Regions from separate parts of the Homo sapiens genome. Here regions 1, 2, 3, 4, 6 and 7 are each reported to be linked to region 5. The links are microRNA targets in miRTarBase. Many come from high-throughput screens and were not tested one by one. Region 5 holds a microRNA gene; each other region holds the end of a gene's coding sequence. Distances are from middle to middle.

Evidence for each region. Region 5 holds the annotated microRNA hsa-miR-4252 (GGCCACUGAGUCAGCACCA, at 1,407-1,425, shown strand). A microRNA usually pairs through its seed, bases 2 to 8, with sites in the 3' UTR of a target mRNA and lowers its output. Matches are read on the target gene's strand: a 7mer-m8 pairs with bases 2 to 8, a 7mer-A1 pairs with bases 2 to 7 and ends in A, and an 8mer does both.
Region 1: the mRNA of SPRYD4 is a reported target of hsa-miR-4252. Seed matches in the 3' UTR shown: 8mer at 2,488-2,495.
Region 2: miRTarBase lists WT1 as a target of hsa-miR-4252. The part of its 3' UTR that is shown has no 7-base or 8-base seed match.
Region 3: the mRNA of CEP104 is a reported target of hsa-miR-4252. Seed matches in the 3' UTR shown: 7mer-m8 at 202-208.
Region 4: miRTarBase lists GPR157 as a target of hsa-miR-4252. Seed matches in the 3' UTR shown: 7mer-m8 at 1,140-1,146.
Region 6: miRTarBase lists IMPACT as a target of hsa-miR-4252. Seed matches in the 3' UTR shown: 8mer at 2,462-2,469.
Region 7: miRTarBase lists POLA2 as a target of hsa-miR-4252. Seed matches in the 3' UTR shown: 7mer-m8 at 1,924-1,930.

Annotation. Positions count from the first base shown.
Region 1 is chr12:56,468,670-56,472,873 of GRCh38, reverse strand. It overlaps SPRYD4 (SPRY domain containing 4), which reads right to left. Exons shown (of 2, transcript NM_207344.4): 1 at 4,198-4,204; 2 at 1-3,835. The coding sequence ends at 3,297. It overlaps GLS2 (glutaminase 2), which reads left to right. Exons shown (of 18, transcript NM_013267.4): 15 at 123-184; 16 at 679-755; 17 at 1,038-1,101; 18 at 1,231-1,922. The coding sequence ends at 1,387. Among named protein-coding and RNA genes, the nearest start is that of SPRYD4, 2.2 kb to the right of the region's middle. RefSeq lists enhancers at 3,449-3,578, 3,999-4,048.
Region 2 is chr11:32,385,839-32,390,042 of GRCh38, reverse strand. WT1 (WT1 transcription factor) reads left to right here. Exons shown (of 10, transcript NM_024426.6): 10 at 864-2,268. The coding sequence ends at 985. Among named protein-coding and RNA genes, the nearest start is that of WT1-AS, 48 kb to the left of the region's middle. RefSeq lists a cis regulatory region at 3,089-3,106 and enhancers at 2,891-3,148, 2,800-3,148, 3,026-3,170.
Region 3 is chr1:3,812,596-3,815,595 of GRCh38, forward strand. It overlaps CEP104 (centrosomal protein 104), which reads right to left. Exons shown (of 22, transcript NM_014704.4): 22 at 1-2,922. The coding sequence ends at 2,807. Among named protein-coding and RNA genes, the nearest start is that of LRRC47, 18 kb to the left of the region's middle.
Region 4 is chr1:9,101,594-9,104,593 of GRCh38, reverse strand. GPR157 (G protein-coupled receptor 157) reads left to right here. Exons shown (of 4, transcript NM_024980.5): 4 at 1-3,000. The coding sequence ends at 175. Among named protein-coding and RNA genes, the nearest start is that of GPR157, 26 kb to the left of the region's middle. RefSeq lists an enhancer at 1-495.
Region 5 is chr1:6,427,065-6,431,268 of GRCh38, reverse strand. MIR4252 (microRNA 4252) reads left to right here and starts at 1,373; the gene lies at 1,373-1,435. It overlaps ESPN (espin), which reads right to left. Exons shown (of 13, transcript NM_031475.3): 2 at 2,850-3,043. RefSeq lists an enhancer at 2,592-2,711.
Region 6 is chr18:24,450,387-24,453,386 of GRCh38, forward strand. It overlaps IMPACT (impact RWD domain protein), which reads left to right. Exons shown (of 11, transcript NM_018439.4): 11 at 393-3,000. The coding sequence ends at 461. Among named protein-coding and RNA genes, the nearest start is that of HRH4, 8.8 kb to the right of the region's middle.
Region 7 is chr11:65,296,666-65,300,869 of GRCh38, forward strand. It overlaps POLA2 (DNA polymerase alpha 2, accessory subunit), which reads left to right. Exons shown (of 18, transcript NM_002689.4): 18 at 455-2,020. The coding sequence ends at 604. The region is part of intron 2 of LOC105369344 (a long non-coding RNA gene); the gene reads right to left. Among named protein-coding and RNA genes, the nearest start is that of CDC42EP2, 16 kb to the right of the region's middle.

The sequences.
Region 1 (4,204 bases), not on the chromosome of region 5:
GTAGCACATTCCATAACACTTCAGCAATACCCTTGGACTAAGCATCCATGGAGGAGGGTCACAGGGCACAGCTGGCATAGGTGAGTTCAATTAATGTCATGTGGGTATGATTTGTGTTCCAGAACAAGACTGTGGTCAACCTGTTATTTGCTGCCTATAGTGGCGATGTCTCAGCTCTTCGAAGGTAATGCTACTGTGACCAAATATACACAATAAAATACTCCTGGTCAGAGATTTTACTAGGAGGCAGCGTAACAAAATAGTTAAGTGCTTCAGCTTTGGAATTAGAATGGATATAGATTGCATTTAAATGAAATTTTTTTAAAAAAGGAGATTTTTTTTAAAAAAAGTAAACTGTCTGCTCTATGATAATTAATGTTAGCCATTGTTATTGAGTGTTAAGAGCAGTGTCCTAGGAAGTAGGTACCCTGCCTCAAATGGGCACTTACCACAGGTAGGCAGTGAGTGATATTTCTGGAAGGATCACATTCCCATCTCTCTAATATGAGTATAACAGTCTCATCTGGATATGGAAAAAAGATTATTCAGAGCCAACAAATCTGGCTATAGGCTGTTTCACTTTCTCTGAAACTCATCCAGTCTGACACCAGTTCACAAAGAACACCTGTGATTCCAGTCTGATCTAGGCAACTCTAGCTGCTTTCCCACTACCCTCAGGTTTGCCTTGTCAGCCATGGATATGGAACAGAAAGACTATGACTCGCGCACAGCTCTGCATGTTGCTGCAGCTGAAGGTACTGAAGGGTTAAGGAGGGGAGGAGGAGGGTAATCATAAGACCCTTTCTTTTTCACCAAAAGTACCTTCATTATATGTGCCCTCAAGGTTATAGGGGCAGCAACTAGTTTTATCTAGACACCCTTCGGTTTGCAGCTAGACTATGACTGAGTGCTGCAGGGTACAAAATGGGAAGAGGCCTTTTCCCCTCCCCTCTTGGTAAAGACTTCAGTGGCTAAGTGTCTGCACCAAAGGGTTCAAGACCTGCGCCTTCTCATTTTCCTTCTGCCCATATTCCTAGGACACATCGAAGTTGTTAAATTCCTGATCGAGGCTTGCAAAGTGAATCCTTTTGCCAAGGACAGGTGAGGAATAGGCTAAAAGTGGAGGAGGGTGGGCACAGCTTCTCCACCTACCCTCCAGCCACCATGCAAATATATACAACCACCACTCTCCACGTCTCCTTTGCCTGATCATATCATTATTCCTCTCAGGTGGGGCAACATTCCCCTGGATGATGCTGTGCAGTTCAACCATCTGGAGGTGGTCAAACTGCTTCAAGATTACCAGGACTCCTACACACTCTCTGAAACTCAGGCTGAGGCAGCAGCTGAGGCCCTGTCCAAAGAGAACTTAGAAAGCATGGTATGAGCACAGGTCATGGACAGCCCCTGCTCAAGAAAAAGCATGAGCTGGCCACACATGTAATCCATAACCACCAAAAATACTATGGAGAGCTACACTGCTTCAGTGGGGACCAAGCAGTCATTTGGTGACTTAGGCTAGTGCTTTCTATGGGAGTCAAAATACCCCATTCCCTCAGCAGACAGAGTACAGAGAAGGGCCTCAGAGGACACCTGCAGTACAGCTATCCAGAGAGACTGGGCTTCAAGGTACAGCCTAATGGCTTGCCCCACTCAAAACCATCCCAGCTCTTCACCCAGGTCTCCTCTTCCTCTCCCTGAAGAAACCATCATGAGAGAGATACTCTGGTGGAGGGACTCTAGCTACCATGCACATGTACATATCCACAGAATATGGGAAGTGGGAATGGCTATATACATGGCTTTAGTAGTCTGGAGAAATCTACTCCCCTTGGCCAGGACATGCTGCTGCTACTGCTAACAGCCAATTTTATAGACAGAGAAAGTATTTTGTGTTCAAATAAACTTTAATTACCAAATCATTTTTGCTAAACCCAGTCCTTCTTTCTTCCCTAGGGGTATCTAGCTTCATCACCATCATAGAAGGTAGAAAAAGATGGAATCACAGGGTCAAAGCACAGCTTCTCTACCTACCCTACCAAACAGTACATATTCACTTACCCCACCAGGTTTTTCTCAACTCCAAATACTGCTTTAGGTTAAGTGTATTCTGCTGCCAAGGGAAGCATAGGTTTGAGTCTAAACAGGCTCTGAAACAGATTGTGCAAAACCTCAGGCCTCCTTCCTTCCTCGGGAAGTTCCAACTGTGGCAGAAATGAAGATGGAACTTCTCAAGAATAAACAGTTTTGGCCGGGTGTGGTGGCTCACGCCTGAAATCCCAGCACTTTGGGAGGCCAAGGTGGGCTGATCACATGAGGCCAGGAGTTCGAGACCAGCCTGGCCAATATGGCAAAACCCCATCTCTACTAAAAATATAAAAATGAGACGGGCATGGTGGCACACACCTGTAATCCTAGCTACTCAGGAGGCTGAGGCACGAGAGTCGCTTGAACCCAAAAGGCAGAGTTTGCAGTGAGCCAAGATCATGCCACTGCACTCCAGCCTGGGTGACAGAGTGAGACTCTGTCTCAAAAATAAATAAATAGTTTCTAGCACTCATCCCCTAGATATCCCCCAAGTGTCTCTCTTCCCCTTTGGTCAAGGTTATAACTGGGATAATGATTATGACAGACTGGCTGGGTGTCAGAGGTACAGATTTAAGGTAGATGGACTCAGGGTAAGGATAGCTACAGCTGTGTGGGGCTGAAGGTCTGTGGCACTGAGCTACTGGGGAAGGAGGGCTCTGTTTTCATTTTGACACACTGAGTTAATAAAGCACTTACTGAGGGAGCCAGAGCCCAAACTCTAAATGTGCTGTAGAAAAAGGGCCAAGTCATTGACTGCACCACTCCTTCAGCCAGAGGTAGAAAGGATTTACTCTTCAGCCATCTGGTAGAGCCCCAAGAACAAGTTACATGTGGACAAAGGGAGGGAGAGGTATCATGGTGATTAATAAATTCAAACAAAGCTGAATGATAAGACCCCAGGATGGAATACAGTCTGAGAAAGGCCTGGGCAAAGGGAGGCAGAGGGACTGAAGGAAGCAGGTCAAGGAAGATACACCCATGGTAGCCTAGGAAATTGGCAGTAGTTGGTGGGTGGGGAAAAGGAGGGTTTGGCTGTATGCCTAGCTTTCACAAGGTAGGGGATGAGGAAGATGATCATGATATTGCACAGAGGACCCAACACTGAATTGTGGGAGCTAGAGGTTGCTTGAGGCAAAGTAAAAAGGCTTCGGACACTTTCAAAAGGAGGCTGGCCAAAGGCGTGATTAGGGACTCCAGTAATGGACATACTAGAGGCCCTCGGGCACCTCAAGCCCTGAATGGGTCAGCAGCTCCCCATCCCAGAGAGCAAAGGCAGGCACCACTGGACCCCGGAAATCTGTCTGTAGCGTGTGAACCACAGAGACCTGGCTCACATCCACCAGGCTCAGCTTCTGGGCCTCATACTCCAGCAACAGCCCCACCTTCTCTGGCTGCCCAATACCCTCAACTGGGGCTTTCTCGTTGGCCAACATGGTGTACCACTTGCGCTGGGCATAGGTGAACACCCAGGAACGATCATCAACACCAATGCAGCTATCCCGGGACATGTCCACATCTGCCACTCCTATCCGGAACTGCTGGGAGCGCTTCACTGTCACTTCCCAGTAGTGTCTGCCACTGGTGACCGCTGTGTCTGCCAGCACCACTGCCCACTCCCGGAAGCGCTCCACATTCAAGGCCACCTTGGTGGGCTCCAATCCCACCAAGCCATATTTGACACCCGTATCATCTCTGAAGAGTGCCAGGCTGCTGTGGGCGGTTTTTTCTTCCAGTTTGAAACTGACGCCTGCGGGCAGAGCAAAAAGACGGGATAATAACAGGGGCTAGAACCCTAGGGCTGGTGATATATTCAGATATGAGGCAGGCAGCCATGATACACGAGCAACTAGGGAAGAGTCAGAATGCCAAGCGGGCAAGAGAGTCGCGAGGTCGCTTTACTACGGATAGCTCACGGAGCTGAAAAACTCGGATTGAGTAAGTCCCGGAATTTAAAGAAACCAAATGGTATCACAGGTTTGGAATCTTAAGACCAAGGCAGGTGGGGAAGGAAAAGACCCGAGAGGGTTGGAGTTGCTTCTCGGAGTGGGGTCTGGGAATAATAGACGGCAGCCATTCTGGAGGTAAAAGAGTAAAAAGAGATAATCCTACCTCTCTG
Region 2 (4,204 bases), not on the chromosome of region 5:
TGTCCTACCTCATCTGTAGAGTGGGGATAATAACGCTTCCCCTACGGGCAGTTGTAAGGAGTACATGAGGTTGTGTGTGTGCGTGTGTGAAGCCCAGCACAAGGCTTGGCATATGTTAAGCATCAAATAAATGGTAGTTATTCTCCCTAATGAGAATGAGGCTTGGAAAGAATGTCTGAGGGCTCTTTGGGTGGAGAAGCCTCAATCTTTTGGCAAGCTTATTAAAAATCTAAGAACCACGCCCCAACTAGAATCTTCCATATAACAGGATTATGCTCTCAGTAACACTTTAAGAGAAAAAAAAAAACAACACATAACATGTAAACTGGTATCAGTGATTTATTTTAAAGTATCCAGCCCATCCAGGGTATCTACACAGATAGAAGTGTTAAAAGCTTCAGTCACAGCTGAGATCCCTGGACAGTGATCACTCAGTAATACCCAGGGTAGATGACCCAGAGGCTTCTGCAGCCCAGTTCATCTCAGTTCCCAACTTACTCAACAAGGGGGAGAAATTTACACAGTTCACAAAACATTCTATCAGCAGAGACTGAAACAAACGTTTTTCCCCTTAATTATGAATTGCTCAGACATTTCCCCCAACTTGACTCATTCTTTATCTCCCACTTTCCAAGTTTTCTGACCTAAGAATATAACTTTTTACAATATTTCGATCCTTAAAGCCCCAAGAGGTGCTGCTGTTTCAAGGCTGCCTGGGAAATGAGCTCAGTTGGTTAGCTCAGGGACAGAATGATGGGAAATTCAGAGTGGGTGCCTTGTGATGACTTCACTCGGGCCTTGATAGTTGAACTTGTGCCTGTCTCTTTGTTGCAAGTGTCTCTGACTGGCAATTGTGTCAACAGGTGAAAAGCCCTTCAGCTGTCGGTGGCCAAGTTGTCAGAAAAAGTTTGCCCGGTCAGATGAATTAGTCCGCCATCACAACATGCATCAGAGAAACATGACCAAACTCCAGCTGGCGCTTTGAGGGGTCTCCCTCGGGGACCGTTCAGTGTCCCAGGCAGCACAGTGTGTGAACTGCTTTCAAGTCTGACTCTCCACTCCTCCTCACTAAAAAGGAAACTTCAGTTGATCTTCTTCATCCAACTTCCAAGACAAGATACCGGTGCTTCTGGAAACTACCAGGTGTGCCTGGAAGAGTTGGTCTCTGCCCTGCCTACTTTTAGTTGACTCACAGGCCCTGGAGAAGCAGCTAACAATGTCTGGTTAGTTAAAAGCCCATTGCCATTTGGTGTGGATTTTCTACTGTAAGAAGAGCCATAGCTGATCATGTCCCCCTGACCCTTCCCTTCTTTTTTTATGCTCGTTTTCGCTGGGGATGGAATTATTGTACCATTTTCTATCATGGAATATTTATAGGCCAGGGCATGTGTATGTGTCTGCTAATGTAAACTTTGTCATGGTTTCCATTTACTAACAGCAACAGCAAGAAATAAATCAGAGAGCAAGGCATCGGGGGTGAATCTTGTCTAACATTCCCGAGGTCAGCCAGGCTGCTAACCTGGAAAGCAGGATGTAGTTCTGCCAGGCAACTTTTAAAGCTCATGCATTTCAAGCAGCTGAAGAAAAAATCAGAACTAACCAGTACCTCTGTATAGAAATCTAAAAGAATTTTACCATTCAGTTAATTCAATGTGAACACTGGCACACTGCTCTTAAGAAACTATGAAGATCTGAGATTTTTTTGTGTATGTTTTTGACTCTTTTGAGTGGTAATCATATGTGTCTTTATAGATGTACATACCTCCTTGCACAAATGGAGGGGAATTCATTTTCATCACTGGGAGTGTCCTTAGTGTATAAAAACCATGCTGGTATATGGCTTCAAGTTGTAAAAATGAAAGTGACTTTAAAAGAAAATAGGGGATGGTCCAGGATCTCCACTGATAAGACTGTTTTTAAGTAACTTAAGGACCTTTGGGTCTACAAGTATATGTGAAAAAAATGAGACTTACTGGGTGAGGAAATCCATTGTTTAAAGATGGTCGTGTGTGTGTGTGTGTGTGTGTGTGTGTGTGTGTTGTGTTGTGTTTTGTTTTTTAAGGGAGGGAATTTATTATTTACCGTTGCTTGAAATTACTGTGTAAATATATGTCTGATAATGATTTGCTCTTTGACAACTAAAATTAGGACTGTATAAGTACTAGATGCATCACTGGGTGTTGATCTTACAAGATATTGATGATAACACTTAAAATTGTAACCTGCATTTTTCACTTTGCTCTCAATTAAAGTCTATTCAAAAGGAAAGTGGCAAGATTCCATCAGCTGTATTGTGTTCAAATCTCAAGGCCACTGAGCCTCTTTTAAACAGGTAAGAGAAGACGCCACCGACATCGACGGCTACTAGTGAGCCTATCCAGGTCCTGACCACAATTTATTTCTCTCTGTCAAACTTCAGGAGGGACTTATATGTCCTAGAAGCAACAGAGAATATCTTCACCTTGTGTTACAGAGTGATTGTGCTCATGCTGTGGTTGAATGGGGTTTGTGGATGATGTGGTGATTATGTTTTAAGGTTTTAAGGTTTATTTTAAGCAGATTGTCATTGCATCCCATCATCCCAGATCAGCAAAAGAAAATAGAGAGATGTTAATGACAACTAGTCCTTTTGAAAAGTTCAGATACATCACTGGGAGGGCATAGGCTGAACACCTAGTACAATTGAATTTACAGCTGTACTTGCTATAAATCAGCTCAGCAGATTGAAAACTGCTCAGCCTTTCCAGGGCAACTGAGTGTGAAAGCAAAGATCTATATTATCTATAAACTATAAACTCTCTTTCTGTTCTGGTGTATGGTTTTTGAATTGTAAATAAGGAGATTAATTTGGTGCAGCCCCTCTCAGCTCCATTATCTTGGGGCTTGCATGCATTCCGGGTTTTATTTCTTCATTTAAAATGCGTCTCAAACAGATGGAAGCCTAGCTATGGAGACTGTTTTACATTGAAGTGCAGCTCAAAGTTTGGGCAGCCTAAAAGTCAGGTCCAGAGGCCCCTCTTATTTTGCATCTGGCTCTTGCATCACTGTTAATTATAGCGAGTGTGGTGACTCATTTATATCAGCCGTTTTTATCTTTTCCTGCCAGAAGACAGCATTTCTCTGGAGAAGCTCAGGACAAGCATGGCAAACGTCAGCGAGTCGGAAAGAGCCAGGTCTTACAACAAAAGTACAGCCACATTGATTGTTTCAACTGCACAGGGAAGAACAGAGATTCTCAGACGACCCTGTAAGTTTAGCTTGCAGTTAAGATCATGGGCTATGGAAAGCAGACCAACCTGGCTTCAAATTCTAAATCTCCAGTTTCTTTATCTGTGAAGTGGGGACAAAAGTCCCTGCCTGATAGGATCATAGTGAGGTTTAATTTTTTTTAAGTATGAAAACATCAAGTACATAGCAAATGCTCATAAACATTATCTAGGAAAACTATTACCCAAGAAATTACTGGCTCATTTCTTTTACCTCTCCCTCCTCCAGGCATCCTCTTGCAGTATCTAGCCATCCTCACAGGTCAGCTCTGAAAAATGGTAAAAAGTCCATTGCCCTCTACCCCAACCCAGAGTTAATAACTTTTGCAGCAATTGAGCTTCTTGCCAGCCTTGCCACAGAGACCATCTCTGCTTGCTCTGTGTCTTCTGTAAAGCACTTGTGAACACTGTATGTGTTTCTGAGACCCACTGTGTTACTCTTCCATAGACTGTGAGGAGTTAGTGGGTGAAAGTAGGTCAGTGGGAGCTCCCTGTGGCCCAGGCTTGAGGCGGTGTTGGGTGCAGTGGTCAGCATGTGCACTTTTCCATCTTGCTTTATTTACTGCAGCACCTGGTTTAGCATATGACTCAGTACTCCCAGCTCCCCAACTCCCTCTGCTGGATCTTCCCAGACTCTTCCAGTCACCCGGAGCCCTCTCTTCTCTGAACCTCTGTAGCATTTAGAGTACCTTTAACATTAAATAGTACTTTAGATCAGAATAGTGCTTTCCCATCCTTTTTGATCTTTAGGACAATCCTGTAAGGTAGACAGGGCAAGTGTTATTCCCACTTTACAGATGAGGAAATTGAGGCTCAGTAGAAGTAAGTGGCTAAGGCAGCTCTTAGTCTTGGTCTTCAGCATCCAGGTGTCGTCCTCCCAAAACATGCTTGGTGGTGTAGACTTGCACTCTGCTCCCTTGCCTCATTTTTATATATCC
Region 3 (3,000 bases), 2.6 Mb from region 5:
TTGGGAGGCCGAGGTGGGTGGATCACAAGGTCAGGAGTTTGAGACCAGCCTGGCCAATATGGTGAAACCCCGTCTCTACTAAAAATACAAAAAAATTAGCCAGGCGTGGTGACACACGCCTGTAATCCCAGCTACTCGGGAGGCTGAGGCAGGAGAATTGCTCGAACCCGGGAGGCGGAGGTTGCAGGGGGCCAAGATCGCGCCACTGCACTCCAGCCTAGGCAACAGAGCAAGACTCCGTCTCAAACCCCACCACCCCCGCAAAACAAAAACAAAAACAAAAAAACAACAAAAAAACCCCCTGTAACTAACAAAAGAGGAACCTGTTTTAAATGAACCCGTTTGCTTGTCAATCACTAAAAATGAAGTCTTTTTATAAGTATTTTCTTTAAGTTACAATATATAGAAGGCATGTGTATATGTGTGTATATATATATATATATTTCTTAAAAGTGTTGATTGGTGAGAAAAGAATAATTCCTTGGTTAACTTTTCTCATTCTTGTTCTGTTTAAAGAAGTGTTTTGTCTGTATTTTAAAAATGGATTAGAAAATAATGGCCAACATCTCTTTAAAACCAGAAAAAATCATTTTACAGACATCTTGGCATCTATACTCTGTTTTGTCTAATAAACTTTAAAGTTATTTCTCTCCTTATACTTTTTTTTTTTTTCGAGACGGAGTCTCGCTCTGTCGCCTGGGCTGGAGTGCAATGGCATGATGTGGGCTCAATGCAACCTCCACCTCCCGGGTTCAAGCAATTTTCCTGCCTCAGCCTCTCAAGTAGCTGGGACTACAGGCCACCACGCCTGGCTCATTTTTGTATTTTTAGTAGAGATGGGGTTTCACCATGTTGGCCAGGCTGGTCTCGAACTCCTGACCTCAGGTGGTCCGCCCGCCTCGGCCTCCCAAAGTGCTGGGATTACAGCGTGAGCCACCGCGCCTGGCCTCCTCTCTCCTTATAAACACATTTAACCTGGGCGTGGTGGCTCACGCCTGTAATCCCAGCACTTTGGGAGGCCAAGGTGGGCAGATTATGAGGTCACGAGTTCGAGACCAGCCTGGCCAACATGGTGAAACCCCATCTCTACTAAAAATAGAAAAAATTAGCCGAGCATGGTGGTGTGCACCTGTAATCCCAGCTACTAGGGAGGCTGAGGCAGGAGAATTGCTTGAACCCAGGAGGTGGAGGTTACTGTGAGCCAAGATCACGCCATTGCACTGCAGCCCGGGCGACACAGTGAGACTCCGTCGCAAACAAGCAGACAAACAACACTGAGCAGAGCATATTCTTAAAGGTTCCTGGTAGGTCTTATATCTTACTCAGTATTCTCAGTCAACCAGAGGTATTAGTTTACCAAACGTGGAGATTAATTCATGCAAATTTATGGTTATTAATGTATCCAGGCCAGGGAGTACATTGTTCAAATCGGGATTAGTTTTTAGATATTTTGTTGTTTCACACGGTTGGCAATTAAAACATATTTATACACTAATTGCATTAATGCAAACTCCATCAACCCAAACCTTTCTAACTATCCTTTTTGAAGTCTGCCCATGCAACATCAGCGAGGCAAGCAGAAGCCCTGGGCACCAGGTGGGAGGGGACTGCCCTTCAGTCCATGGTAGCCTAGGCCCCTGGGAGCACAGGCTGGGGCAGCGAGAGGGTGGATGCTTCCAGACAGACCCTGACTCCCTCCACATGGCTGCCTGGATGTGACACAGGCCCAACCAAAGCTATGGACAAAACCCCCAGCTCACTCCCACAGGAGGGGATGGCTGGTTAGGAGACTGTTTTTTGAGGGTTGGTTTCATCATTTTAAGCAATGTGTTGATGTTTTAAACATCCTATCAACTCTTTGAAGAAAGTAAACTTATGGATCCAATCACAACATGGATGTGGAAGGGGCGGGAGGCCCATACCAGTGGGCTTCTGCCTGCTGTGAACACAGGGTGATCAGGTGGAAATTCATTTAACAGTGACTTCCTCCACATGTCTTTAGGAATTCGAAAGTGTGGAGAAAGTGAAGCGCCTCTGAGCAAAGGCACGGGAAGGGCCCACACCTGTGTCTACCTCAGTTCCAGCAGGGAGCTGATGCCTGTCACAGGGGCAGCACTACTGGAGAAGCATCCAGCAAGGTGCGGCTGAGGTGGGACCAATTCTCAAAAAAACTACGATTAAAAAAAAGATGTTCTCTTTTGCCTTTATTTCTTGCTATAGTGGGAACGTGAGTTCTGCTACCTGGGGCTGAGTGCACTGGGCAGCAGGCCCAGCAGACGGGGCCTGCAGGGGGAAGGCACGGCTGGAGGCCCGTGCGCACCGCCACTCTCCTGGAACCGCTGCTGGCCGAGCCACAGCCCTGCGGAAATTCTACTGCGTGTGGCAGAGACCGATGTGCAAAAGGTTTCTGGTGAATGTTTTATGGAAATTGCTCCAAGCACTAAGGAAAGCGGGACCGTGCCTGTGCTGACCGTGGCCTTGCGCGAGCGCCTCCCGGCGGTGCTCTCTGGCTCTCTCCAAACAGGACGCTTCCTTCTCTGATTCTAAGGAAGGCCTGAGACAGCCCTGAAGGCTTAATGTACAGTGCGGCCAGGTCCTGGCACTGCACGCAGGATCTTTGGTTAGCTGCATCCATATCGTTTGCACGAGAGCTGACGGCACAGACGCGTAAGAGGCGTGCACGGCGGGGAGCTGGGGACAGCAGCCAGAGCATGGGGCCACCAAGGCCAGAGAGTTCTGGAGAGATGGTGTAGAATCAGGAGACCCGCTCCATCCCTCACAGAGACCAAGGAGCCCGAGCGCCGCGTCAGCGCTTGGCGTACGTCCTGCTGGAGCTCTTGCTCAGTCCGCCCTTCGGGGTGGGGATCTTGCTTCCGGCCTTTGACCCCAAGGGGCCTGATGCGGCCACAGCTGAGCTTTTCCCTGCAGAGCAAGCACAGGACCTGCATTAGGAGGGGCACTCCTACCCACGGACCAGGTGCAGAACCTGTGGCCACAGAC
Region 4 (3,000 bases), 2.7 Mb from region 5:
GTTCGTCCTCTGCACCCGCGCCGTCCGAACTCGGCTCTTCTCTCTCTGTTGCTGCTGCTGCTCTTCTCAGCCTCCCACCAAGAGCCCGGCTGGCACTCCCAAGGCTCCCGCGCCTTCCAAGCCAGGAGAATCTCAGGAATCCCAAGGGACCCCAGGGGAACTTCCAAGCACCTGAGCTTTTGTCCTTTCTAGTTCTGTGCATAGGTGCTGCCTTCCTGGGGGTAGGCACTTCTGTGAGTCCCTGCTGCAGGGGCAGAAGTGCATGTCTGCTGCACCAGAAGCCCCCGCTATTGATGCTCTCGGCTCCATTGGGAGAGCAGCTGCCAACTCAGCTTCTTCTACCTCCTAGATCCTCAGGCAGCAAGTTCCACCGGTACCAGCGTCCTGGCCCACGGGTGGGCGTTCATCTGCATAAGGGTAGCAGTGAGATTCGGGAAGCCGGTGGCCCACAGCTGTGGCCACAGTGCCCCCACCCAGTGGACCTTGATGTCCTGAGGACCACACAGCACTGTTTACAATCTGAGGGACCCACATCTGTGCACCTATCCTCTGTGTGATTAAATAAGCTGTCAGGGGCCCTCAGAGATGTGTCCCCATCCACACATCATGGAGCAGATTCCCGGCTGGTCAGGGTGTTAAGATTCTCTGGAGAACCCGGCTTTCCTTGGAGACTTTGCTCAACAGAGGAACCAGTTGCCATTCACCAGGTTGAAGGTTCCCCTGAGGTTGCATGGTGACCACCAGGGGCAAGCACAGCCCGGCGCAGCTGCTCAGGGACAGCAGTCTCCCCGGGCCTCCTGGCCTCTCCCTCCATGGGCTGCTAACCCTTGCCGTAGCTTGGGTTTGAGTGTCAAGCACAGGCCAGAATCCACACTCCTGTCCCCACCTGTCAATCACTTCAGACACAGGTTCCCTCCTTCCAATTCCAAAGCTGGAACAAGGGCAGGAAGAGGCGTCTCAGGGAACCCCCGAAGACCCCACTGTCTCTCCAGCTCCTTTCTTAGAATCCTCCTCTTCTTGGGGAGACCAAAGGGGATGAGTAGGGAGGGGTTCTGGCTTATTTACTTCTTAGTTTAGTTTTTTGTAAGTAAAGTGGCCGGAGAGATGAGTAATCCAAATACGATTCCTCAGGCCGGGCACAGTGGCTCACACCTGTAACCCTAGCACTTTGGGAGGCCAAGGCAGGCAGATCACCTGAGGTCAGGAGTTCAAGACCAGCCTGGCCAACATGGTGAAACCCTGTCTCTACTAAAAATACAAAAATTAGCCAGGCATGGTGATGCACGTCTGTAATCCCAGGTCTTTGGGAGGCTGAGGCAGGAGAATCTCTTGAACCTGGGAGGCGGAGGTTGCGGTGAGCCAAGACCACACCATTGCACTCCAGCCTGGGCAACAAGAGTGAAACTCGGTCTCAAACAAACAAATACGATTTCTTCCTAAAGGTGAAGGTTTTAAGCTTCAGAGTCAGTTTTTTTTTTTTTTTTTTTTTAAAAAAGGAGCCTCATTCTGTCGCCCGGAGCTGATGTGGTGGTGCGTGCCTGTAGTCCCTACTACTCAGGAGGCTGAGACGGGAGGATCCCTTGAGCCCAGGGATTTGAGGCTTCATTGAACTGGGATGGCACCACTGCCACTCCAGCCTGGGCAACAGCAGGACCCTGTCTCAAAAAAAGAAAAAAACAAAGGATTCAAAAGGATTCAGCTGTTTTGTATTCAGCTGAGGTAAGTGGCGGCATGGAGCATGGAGCGATTATTTACATTTAAAAGAAAAGAATTGAAAGTAAGCACCTGTATCTCTATTTTTATTCTGTGGGTCTTCCACAAACGCTTTCGTCTTATTTCAGAAAACAGCTTCTGTGTTCAGTCACAGGAGCCATCGGCAAAGAATGGAAGTGGAAATGCTACCTCCAGGGTCTTGGTGAGAGAAAGTACAGCTTTACCTGATAGGTGATTTCCCTTGGAATCCATCAGAACTCGACAAAGCATGATTTTCTGAGCCTAGTAAAATGGTTCTGAATCAAAACCGAAGTCACGCTGTGCTGCCGATCCCTGTTTGACTCTCAAAACCAAAATCTGTATCAGGAAAGGAATAATCATTTAGCAGACTGAGTCCAAAATGCTCATTTTTGGTTTCCTGTGAAAATGGATTTCTTTTTGTCGCTTTCTTTTTTTTTTTTTTTTTTTTTGAGATGGAGTCTCACTCTATTGCCCAGGCTGGAGTGCAGTGGTGCAATTTTGACTCACTGCAACCACCGCCTCCCAGGTTCAAGCGATTCTCCTGCTTCCCAATCCCAAGCTGCTGGGATTACAGGCATGCGCCACCATGCTCGGCTAATTTTTTGTATTTTCAGTAGAGACGGGTTTTCACCATGTTGGCCAGGCTGGTCTCGAACTCCTGACCTCAGGTGATCCACCCACCTCAGCCTCCCAAAATGCTTCGATTGCAGGCATGAGCCACTGTGCCTGTCCAAGAAAACAGATTTCTTGATGGAAATTAGTGAGACAGACATCCCCTTAGGATTGAAAGAGAGCTCTGGGCTGCTCCAGGGAAAGCCACTTGGCAGAAATAGCCTCTGTAAGTGAATTCTGGATTCCCCTGAAGACGTTACAGCAAATCTCTGGGTATGTCTCTGGTAAAGACCCTCACTTGAGCTTCTAGAAGGGAGCGAAAATTCAGGAATTTGCTTGCTGCAAAAGAGAACATGATTAACAGGTAAAAGAGAAAAGACAATATAGGCCACAGAGGAATAGTGTTAGGATCAACCCTGCTCAGCAGGGGCCTCTGGAGCCCTCCCTGCTGTACCCAAGCCAGAGCTGAGACATGGCTCCCCAGATGGACTGGCTGTGGTCAGGAAAGGCCTGTAGAGGGAGCTGAGGGCTCAGAAAATACCTGCTCCGGGTGCCTGGGCTCAAGTTCTCATTCCATTTCTTTGATGCCACTGGCCACTGTATCTGCTTTTGTAAAAACCTCCAAAAAGTTATACATCAGGTATCTCTAGTCAG
Region 5 (4,204 bases):
GGGAAGGAGGCACCTGCTGAAGTTGATAAAATCTCTGGGCTAACTGGTTTTCCAGCTTGCTGTGACTGGCAGCACCCACGAGCCCAGGGGAAGAGCCTGGAGCCTCCTCACTCCCCAGCCTGGAAGCTTAAGCCTCAGGGTCCCAACTGATCCCCAGCTCCCTGACCCCCACAGCCCTGCCCAGCTGCTCAGGCCCTGGGGCAGCCAGAAGCAGGTGTGAGGGGGACAGAGTGAGCTCCTGGGCTCCAGGACCCTCCTGGGAGGATGGCCACCGGCCTTGGGGCCACCTGCTCTTTGCCCCTCCTCACTCTGCCCTGATTAGGGATCTGGACCCCTTGTTCCCCTCCATCAGCCACTGGAGCTCCTGCCGGGAGGGCCAATCCTCCCAACTCAATCTCCCTGAGACCCAGAGCCTGGGACTTGCCCAGCCCGGCTCCTGCCAGCCCCATGCCTCCCAACTGAGAGATGCCTTTTTTTTTTCTTTTTTTTTCCCCCTTGAGACAGAGTTTCACTCTTGTTGCCCAGGCTGGAGTGCAATGGCTCAATCTTGGCTCACCGCAACCTCCGTCTGCCGGGTTCAAGCGATTCTCCTGCCTCAGCCTCCTGAGTAGCTGGGATTACAGGCATGCGCCACCACGCCTGGCTAATTTTGTATGAGAGATCTCTTTTCTACAAGGGCTCAGAGGGAGGGTCCCGCGTGGCAGCAGCCCCTGAGGTCAGTGTGACAAGTCCTCTGCTTCTGGGAAGACTTGGCCCCATGAACGGGACAGACGGGGAGGTGTGGGGGACGTGCAGGACATTCCTGCAATCTCAAGCGCTTTCTGTTATAACACCCCAAGGTATAGACCTGGAATTAGCTGAGCTTCCCCGAGGCTGTCCAGCCTTCCAGCTCCTCTGCAGCGTGTCACTTCCTCGTCCCGTGGCCACCCACAGCCTCCCTGGCAGGATCGAGTTTCCCACCAGCAGGTCCGGGAGCCCTTCCTCCCTCAGTGCTCACCCACGCGCCAGCGAGAGAGCTGAGCCTTGTGAATAATTCACAACGATTCACAGCAGGCCCCAGAGGCTCACAAGAGCATGAAGCTGGGCCACCTGGGTCCCCTGATGGGGCCCTGTGTCCTGGGGCAGCTCAAGCCTCTGCCCTCCCCAGCTCCCAGCCCTCATATCCACAGCCTTGATGAGCAGGAATCCCTACCCCCAAGGTAGGAGGTTAAGTGGGTACCCCAGCCCCCAACCCCAATTCCCAGCTGCCCCTCCTGCGTGAGCCCAGCCTGGCAACCACACAAAGACACCTTCTTATCAGTCGAGTCACATGCTGCTGTGGGGAACGGAGCCCAAGCCCTCTGTCCACCTCCCTGAGATTCATGGTGACTCCTGGGGGGCTGGCAGCTCATCAGTCCAGGCCATCTGGCCACTGAGTCAGCACCAGCGCCCAATCACACACAGCACCTGGCATGGCCTGGGAGGGGGTCAGGGTCCCCCAGCCCCGGAGCCCTGGAGGGCGTTCCACAGCACAGCCAGTCTTCCTAACACCTGGGATCCAGCCCACGGAGGGATCACGGCTTCTCAGTGAGGAAGGCTCAGGGGCTGGCGGTCCCCACCAGCACTTGCAGAAGGTGGGCTCAGCGTCCTCCAGTTCACACTTGGGCCATATTGGTCCCGCCATCAGGGGCACCTGCCCCTCTCAAGACCTGTCCTTCTCCTCTGCTTGAAGTGAGGGGGTGGGACAGGTGCATCAGAATCACCGCCGTGAGGGTGGGGACATGTCCCAGGTGTGGCTCCCACGCCCCAACCTGGAGAGTCTAACTCAGGAATCTGGGACAGCCTCCAAGAGGTGCTGACAGGAGCCAGTTGGAACCCTCTACTCAAGGGTCCCTGGGGCCCTCCTAGTCTAAATCCCACTGACTTTGACATGATCCAAATCCTAGTTTGTTTGGAAGCAGTGAATTCATACCAAAGCTGCTCTCGTCCTGAGGCTGGGTCCACATTCACATTTACATCTCAGGCTCCCACTTAGACTAATGAGGGTCACCCATCAGAGCACCCCACTCCCCGCTCAGACCCCTGTGGCATCTGGCACCCTACCCTCTCAGACAGGCCCTGGGCAGCTTTCCCCAGGATCCCTGCCTCCCCAGGCGCACCTAACACCTGAGTCCCTCCCTCCCTCCCTCCCTCCCCAAGACTCACACATGCCCCCTGCTCTGTGTGACCCCCCACCCCACCCAGGGGAGCTCCCAGCCCACTCCCCAGGAGGTTTGGGATCCCCATGCTTCCCTTGATAGTAGGAACGGGCTGAGGGGCCACAGGAGATAACAAGATGCTCTCTGGATGGCCTCCAGCCAGGGGCTCTGGGGCCAGGAGGTGGGGTGGGGGTCTGGGAGGGGCCTTTCTCCCTTAACTGCTTGGTAACTGATGGGGTTCCCTTTCTGCCTGTTTGACTAGGGCCTAGGAGGCGCTCCTGCCCTTGCTGCCCCCGACTCCATCCTGAACAGTCTTGCAAATGAGCACAGCCTGAGCCAGAGAGAGCCCCTGCGGCAGAAGCAGCCCAAGGGGAACAGGTGACCTTGGCCTGTGTGCCCAGCCTCCCAGGTCCAGCTGTGTGCGGCCGGGCAGCTGAGGATGCTGGGAGCACCTGCTTGCAGGGCTCTGGGGGCAGCCCCAGAAGGGGTTTTCCAGGAGGGGAAAATTTCATGTTGAGTGGGAGCCATTTCTCTGGCCTGGCCCTCTGGCCCCAGGATGGCCACTGGAGGGATCATTGCCCTGGAGTGCCAGAGAGGCGTGGAAAATCCCAGGCATCCCCCAAAGCCCTGGCCCAGCCCACCCAGAGGACCCCTTAAGAGGGGTGATCTTACTCAGGGTAGTGCTCGACGAGAAGCCTCAGGGAGGGGAAGTCTCCTTTGGCGGCAGCGTAGTGGATAGGCAGGGCGCCCATGTCTGTGGCCGCGGTGGGGTCCCCACCGCCATGATGCAAGAGCCAGTTCACCACCTCGGGGTGGCCGAAGCGGGCAGCCAGATGCAAGACTGTGGCACCAGAATTGTCTTTGTCCTGTGGGAGGAGAGCTGGTTCAAGTCCTAAAGCCTGTTGCTGCCCCGCCCCTGGCTTGGGCCACTCCCAGACTCCCACAGGCCTGGAAGGTAGCTCTGTGCTCTCTGTCTTCCCTGGAGGGATTGGCCAGGCCTCATTCAGCAATGTTTTTTTTGGGTCAAGCGGATCCTGGGTTTGAGTCCTGCTTCTGTCCTTGGGCAACTAACTGGCCCTCTCTGAACCGTAGCCAATAGGCAGCACCGTGCAGGGTTTTCAGAGGCTGCAGGTCCTGACTGCGAGCTGCCTACACGACAGGCACCTGGTTGTCACGGCAGGAGACTGGCACCAGGCCCAGGGCCACAGCCCTGACTCCCAGGGACTCAGGGAATGCCTGAAGGAGTGACACAGGGTTACTGGGCTGAGCAGGGCCAGGAAGGGGGGCTGTGGGGCTGTACCAAGCTAGCATCAGGATTGGGGGTCACCCCCTGCATCCAACACTTGCCCCCGATCTCTCCACCCTTCCTCGGTGTCACGTGGGAACAGAGACCTCCACCTTGGTACGCCTCCAGGAACCCAACCTCAGTGCAGAAAACCGGCCCCTCCCCCAGCAGACTCGCCAGTGCCCAGCCACAGGAGCAGCCTGTGTTCTCGCCCCTGTGGAGGTGGAAGTTGCTGGGTACTGGTGGGCGGGTCCGGGGCAGTCAGCCAGGGGTGCTAGGTGCAGGCTAGTGGTGGCCTCTGGGAGGGCTTGGACAAAACTCCCCCCGGGGACCTCAGAGCAGGTGGGGCCAGAGGTCTGGGCCCAGAACTGCTGAATGTGTCATCAGTGCACACCCCATTGTGTGTGTCTGCTGAGAAAGGGGCTGGAGGGGAGTGCTTACAGGACCTGTGCTGGGAGGAGAATTCCCGGGAACATCTAGACACAGAGGCTGCCGCACTTGGCAGAGTGGGTACTGGTTCGGGAACAGAACCACCTCCCAGCACCAAGCACATAGGATGACAGAGGGGTGGGCAGGGTTCTGGGTGCAGGATGCAGTGGACACACTTCACTAGGATCAGGGAGTAAAGCCTCTCTGCCCCGCCTTGCCCAGAGAGAGGGCACTGTGGTTACAGACTGGCAGAGGCGGCAGGAGCTGGCAAGAGACCCCAGGCCTCAGGAAGTCAAATCACGGTGGGAAGAGA
Region 6 (3,000 bases), not on the chromosome of region 5:
ATGCTTTCTTCCTTTATACTTTGAGTTTATTTTGTTTTATATTTTAGGTATGTTCATATCTGCCTTATTTAAATTTTACTGCCTTGGGAAAGTGGGGCAATAGATGAAATAATTTTGAAATTATTCAAACATAAATCCACTAGATAAATAAGGTTTCCTTGATTATTCTTGATTGTTTAAAAAATATTAGCCTATAAGTGAAAGTACCCTTTAAAACACAGAAATGACACATATAAAAGTGATTATACCCTCACTGTAACATATATACATACATACATATATGTATGAATATATGTGGAATATATATGTGTAAATATATTCTAAGTGATTAGATTGAAGATTTCATCTTTATGTAAATGGAGAGATGCTGCACTGATTTGTGTCTTTTTCAGGAGGAGTCATCTAAGGCTTTGGGAAAGAACAAAAAAGTAAGAAAAGACAAGAAGAGGAATGAACATTAATACCTGAAACTATAGGAAAGGTTAATTTGCCTATAATTATATATACATTCCATAGTCATCAAGGAATATATTGTGCAGAGAGAGTATCCTTGACTGCTTAAGTCAGCCAGTTCAGCATGGATACCAACATTAGCTTTTCTTCTTGGTTATATCATCTGCCAAAAATAGAGAACTTATGATCTATTCATGTGTGTTTCAGGCTTATTTGGGAGAACTAATTTGAACTTAATCACCACTTCATCTAATTTTAGCAAGGTAACAGTTGCCCAGGGCAGTACCTGAATTAACTGTCCATTTCAGTACATGTCAAGTGCCTTTGTTAGGTGGAGAAGAAATGTCTCTAGAGGAATATAAATACCTGATTTCTTGTCATCGAGATTCTTGTACTGTTAAATGAATATTGCCTTTTACTGCTCTTTATGGCTTATTGGAATAGGAGCTCATTTAAGATTGATCTTGGAGAGTTTCTTCTTGTGATTTTAGTTCATAAGTATGTCACCTTTCATTTTATAGTGTTCATCATTGAGTAATGGATTAAGTGAAAATCCAGGAGTATCCATCTGCAGTTATGTGCTGAGGTGATAATTCATCCAACATATTTGTTAGCATAAATATTATGCTTCAGTTTCTGTTGCAAATTGGTGATTGTGAAATTACAGAAAGTGATTTTCTAGTCTGCTTTTTTTGTTTAATTCTTGTAATGTAAGCAATAAATATGGAGTGTCAGTAGTCTCCTTCCACCCCAGAAATGTGTTGGTGTAACATTCTCGTTTCTTTTAACAACCTGGAAGTACCTTTCTTGTGATCTTCACTGAGGAATTAGAACTATGATAGAAGTTAGGCTGTGGCAAATGGGACATTCGTAGAGTGGGATAGAGGTGGCAGAATGAACCTGGTGTAGGGCAGGAGTATGTTGTGTAGTTACATCAATTTGATGCATGCTTTCCATCTGCACTCCAGACGGCTTTCTCAGTTCCAAGATTTTGCAGAGAGAAGGAGCAAACCTTTTCATTGGAAAAACAGAAACAACCCTCCCCCCCATTTTTTCCCCTCTATTCATCAAACCTTTATGTATCTTTCATCTTCCAGTTACCTCTAGGCATTTAGATAGTGAAATTTACCTTTGAGATATAACAATAAGTGATTAACTGTTCACTTTCAGATGTAATGGCAAACAATTGTTAAAAGTTATTAACTGATCACAGATTTGCCTGGACTTCCCTTCCCAGGGAGGGAACAGAAGTTAGGAGGCAACTTTGGGATGGTGCTAGAGCATGGAAAGCACAGAGAATTGGACAAACAGGTCTTTTTCTCTTTTCTCTGATGTTTTACCTTTAAAAGATCCAACATCCTTACCGTTGGTATTTTTAGTAAGGTTATAGTAAATAGCTTTACACCAGGATGGATTCTGAAATATAAATTCTAAATTATATTTGTTATAACTATATTTTATGTTGTATGTTATCAGGAGCCATCAGAGAATGACCTTTTTGTGTTTGGAACACTTGGTTCCATGAAAAGTATGCTTTGTGTTTTAACTGTTAAAATAATTTAAAAATTAATTATTTTACATAATTAAAGAAGTTAAAAACTATTAACATTAAATAATTTCACAATTTCAACATGTCAAACCTATGAAGGGAGATAGGAAACAATGAGAAACTTACTTTTGCTCCTTTATACAGAATTATTAACTATATTTTACTAACTAAAAAACTCTAGTATTCTTTACCTAAAGTCAATTGGCTGGTAAGAGGGAGAGATGCAAAATTCTCCAGCTCTGAACTTGGAGCTACTTCACACTCTACTCTTAATGGAAACTTGAACTAATGATAGATAGTATTTTTTTCCTCTATTTAAAATTTTTGTCTTGATTAGGAGATTTTTCAGTTCTCCATATAATAATTTTCTACAATCAGATCTATGCTGTGGCATATTTTGCTTTATTTAAAAATTTTTTTTTAGAGATGAGTTCTTGCTCTGTCACCTAGGCTGGAGTGCAGTGGCATGATCATGGCTCACTGCAGCCTTGACCTTCCAGCCTGCCAAGTAGCTGGGATTACAGACAGGCATGTGCTATTACACCTGGCTAATTTTTAAAGTTTTTTTTGTAAAGATAGGGTCTTTCTATGTTGCCCAGGCTCGTCTTGAGCTCCTGGCCTCAATCGATCTTCCTGCCAAGGTTTTGGAATTACAGGTGTGAGCCACCATGCCTGGCCTGCTTTGACATATTTTATAGTGTGTTAATTACAAATAGTCTTCATATGCCAGAATATAAGAGCAAGTGTTATCTACTTTTTAGATGGGAATTGCAGAAGCTGCATCAAAAGTATGCTTTGAGGTATATATAGTGAAACAGAGCCTTTCTGAAGAGAATTATATCAAACTAATTACAACCAAGAAATAATAGTATGAAGCGGATGCTGTTTGGAGGACAGGAAAATTTATCGGGAAAATTACATAATCCCTCTGATTCCACTATCCAGAGATAGCCATTATTATTAATATTTGGTATGTACATCCTTATATTATTTTTTTC
Region 7 (4,204 bases), not on the chromosome of region 5:
GCCGGGCGCAGTGGTTGACAATTGTAATCCCAGCACTTTGGGAGGCCGAGGTGGGTGGATCACCTGAGGTCAGGAGTCTGAGACCAGCCTGGCCAACATGGTAAAACCCCATCTCTACTAAAAATACAAAAATTAGCCAGGCATGGTGGTGTGGGTGCCTGTAATCCAAGCTACCTGGGAGCCTGAGGCAGGAGAATCGCTGGAACCCGGGAGGTCGAGGCTGCAGTGAGCTGAGATCTCACCACTGCACTCCAGCCTGGGCAACAGAGCGAGACTCCATCTCAAAAAAAAAAAAAAAAAAAGTGACTGAAAATGTGTCTGGTGATTTGGTTGCCTTCGTTTCCATTTTCTAAAACCCTCTTTGGGGTCCAGCCATGTGATGGCACTTCTTTTTCACATTGGTTCCCAGTTAGTTGAGGCTCTCCAAACCTGTCACCTCTCCTCTCCTCCCCAGGATGTCCTCGGCTGTGTCTGTGTGAACCCTGGGCGCCTTACCAAAGGGCAGGTGGGAGGCACCTTCGCCCGACTCTACCTTAGGAGGCCGGCAGCGGACGGGGCAGAGAGGCAGAGCCCATGCATTGCTGTGCAGGTCGTCAGGATCTGAGGCTTCTGTCCTCTGCTGTTCTCTGCTGTGTGGGCCCTTAAAGTCTTAGCCAAGAGCCAAGACATAGCCCTGTGACAAGGTGAACAGTTGGGTGGGAAAGGAGAGAGGAGCCAGCCAGGGAGGGGCAGCTGCAGTGACCAGGCCCAGCAGGGAGGACTTGTGCAGCCGGGCCTGCCTCTGAGTGGTGCCTCTCCTGGAAGGAAGCTCTTGCTTCTCAGTCCATGCTCCGTGTCCAGAAGTAAGCCAGCTGTGGATCCCGCCCACTCAGAAAAGGCGAGAAGGCTTTGTGATTTTCTACATGAATCAAACACAGAAACAACTTTTGGAGAAATTAAATTCTGAGTGTGACTTCTGAGTTTGACCTTTCTTCTATTTTCTTTTATTTATTTATTTTGTTTTTAGACGGAGTCTCGATCTGTCGCCCAGGCTGGAGTGCAGTGGTGAGATCTCGGCTCACTGCAAGCTCTGCCGCCCGGGTTCATGCCATTCTCCTGCCTCAGCCTCCTGAGTAGCTGGGACTACAGGCACCCACCACCACGCCTGGCTAATTTTTTGTATTTTTAGTGGAGATGGGGTTTCACCATGTTAGCCAGGATGGTCTCGATCTCCTGACCTTGTGATCTGTCCGCCTCAGCCTCCCAAAGTGCTGGGATTACAGGCGTGAGCCACCGCGCCCGGCCCCTTTCTTCTATTTTCTTTATCCTGGTAGTAGACAAAGAATGTTGCCTATTTGACCTATGTCCAGAGAAGGCAGAGTGTCAGTCACACTGGGTTTCTATCCAGCCCCAGTCCTGTCCAGTGGGTAACTCTCAGCCCCACTCCTCATCCCCCAAAGGCCCCAGTGACCTCTATGCTGCAGAGGTGCACTGGGTGGGCCCTAGAGCTGGGCTGCAGAGCAAGCAACTGGCTGCATGCCTGGGCCTCCCTGCGCAGTTCCTCACATGCATGCTGTGGTCCCAGCCTGACCTCTCCATCTGGAGGGGGCCGCCTCGCTGGGCTGTTCCAAAGCTGGAGTCCTGGTGGCAGCTGCTTTGCCAAGTCGCGCAGTAGCCAGGGCTTGCCTGCAGCCCAGAACACTCAGACAGGGTCAGGCCTTCCAGGGTTCACAGCACGTCCCATGCCCCTATGTCCTGGCATCTGGGGAAAAGCTGTCACTGGCCAGACGTGGAGTGGCTTCCTGCCCTAAGCTGGCAGGCTGTCCTGCCTCACATGCCAGAGCCAAGACCGGCAAACCCCAGCTGTCAGGGCAGGGAAGTGGGCAAGGGGGCAGCAAGCTGCTGGTGTCTATGCCTTGACTCCGAGATAAATAGATGACCTAACAGTGGCCAACTTTTGCCTCTCACCTTTCTGACGGTGAAATGGAATCGAGCCCCAGACCTGACCAGGGTACAGTAAAAGGTCTTCCTTTAAACACAAGGAGCAGCTGTTTTATTTCATTAGTTTTATAGGCACCTCCTCTGAGGCCAAGAATTAGAAACTCATCCCTGCGTGGGGAGTGGATTTTTCCGTTCTCCCCCAGCTCCTCCACACATGAAGCAGCCAGCTGTGTTCCACGGGGGCACCATGACTTGTCAGCCTCCGGATGTGGAATTTTGGGAGCCCAGGCAATGGTTGCCTGGATACCAGTCGTGTGACTGTTGGAAATGATCTGGGAGGGCCGGGAGGGCCGGAGCAGGCATTTAAGAGTCAGACAAAGAGAAAGCGGGATGCTAACACCAGAGCAGACAGGTCTGGCAGGCGTGCCTCTGCCACCAGACAGTTCCTTTTTGCTCTTGTCAGGAAGGTGCCAAGTGACTGCTGGCTGACCGTCCCTAGACCCCACTTCAGCTGTGTCACCAGTTTCCCCAGGCATCTGTCATCCCAGGTATTCTCAAGCAGGCTCTGGGGGCGTGTCAGTGACGGAGGGTGGGAGGGTGCCCAGGAGGTCAGGCCCGTCTGCCTCAGCCCCCTTTGGTGGCCTCTCCCTGATCTGGTCATGGCCCCTGCCCTTGAGACACCAACTAGACGGTCCTGAAGAAATAGTCCCGAGCTCTTGCCAGGATTTGCCTCCCATGCCCATGCCCTTGCCCTGCCTCTGCCCTGGCAGAAGGAGCCGCCCTCCCTTACCCGCCTCGTGGCTTCCCTTTAGGGTTCCAGTCTCTGAGAGGGAGAGGGAGAGCTGCTGAGGGAACAGAAGCCACTCCTAGTTGCTGTTCCTGGGAACCCAAGTGGGTGCCAAGAATGCAGCGAGGGAATTAGGGCCTCGAGGGGCACCCAAGGTTGGGGGCCGGCAGGGCCATGGCGCGGATCCTCCATCCAGCTCTGCCTTCTGCAGCCACTGGGGCTTGGGGTTTCCTTTCCTTTGACCTCAGGGCACCCGGCCCAGCTCAACCTGGCCTTGCTGCTTCACTACTGCTGGGAGTAGCCATCTGCGCTGATTTCTCACTCCACCAACCCCACCCCGACAGAGTCTCACTCTGTCGTCCGGGCTGGAGTGCAGTGGCGCGATCTCGGCTCACTGCAACCTCCACCTCCCAGGTTCAAGCGATTCTCCTGCCTCAACCTCCCGAGTAGCTGAGATTACAGGCGCCTGCCACCACGCCCAGCTAATTTTTGTATTTTCAGTAGAGACGGGGTTTCGCCATCTTGGCCAGACTGGTCTCAAACTCCTGACCTCAAGTGATCCACCCGCCTCAGCATCCTAGAGTGCTGGGATTACAGGCGTGAGCCACCATGCCCATTTTAAAGTGTATGATTCAGTGGTTTTTAGTATGTTCATGGTGTTGTGCAGGCCTCGCCACCATCTAATTCCAGAGTATTTTCATCACCCCAAAGGAAACCCTGCACCCATTAGCAGTCTAATCCCATCCCCTGGCAATCATTAATCTAATTTCTTTTCTGTAGATTTGCCTATTTTGGGCATTTTGTATAAATGGAATCATACAATACATCCTCTTTTTTTTTGAGACAGAGTTTTGCTCTTGTCACCCAGGCTGGAGTGCAGTAGCGCAATCTCGGCTCACTGCAACCTCTGCCTCCCGGGTTCGATGGATTATCCTGCCTCAGCCTCCTGAGTAGCTGGGATTACAGGTGCCTGCCACCACACCTGGCTGATTTTTATATTTTTAGTAAAGACAGGGTTTTGCCATATTGGCCAGGCTGGTCTCAAACTCCTGACCTCAGGGTTCAGCCTCCTGAGTAGCTGAGATTACAGGTGTGTCTAGAACTCCTGACCTCAGGTGATCCACTCGCCTCGGCCTCCCAAAGTGTTGGGATTACAGGCATGAGACACCGTGCCTGGCCCATGCTCTTTTCTGTCAGGTTTTGTTTGTTTGTTTTTTTGTTTGTTTCTGAGACAGAGTCTCACTCTGTCACTCAGGCTGGAGTGCAGTGGCACGATCTCTGCTCACTGCAACCTCCACCTTCCGGGTTCAAACGATTCTCCTGCCTCAGCCTCCTGTGTAGCTGGGATTACAGGCACCCGCCACCGTGCCAACTGATTTTTGTATTTTTAGTAGAGACAGGGTTTCACCATGTTGCCCAGGCTGGTCTCGAACCACTGACCTCAAGTGATCCGCCCACCTCGGCTTCCCAGAGTGTTGGGATTACAGGCGTAAGCCA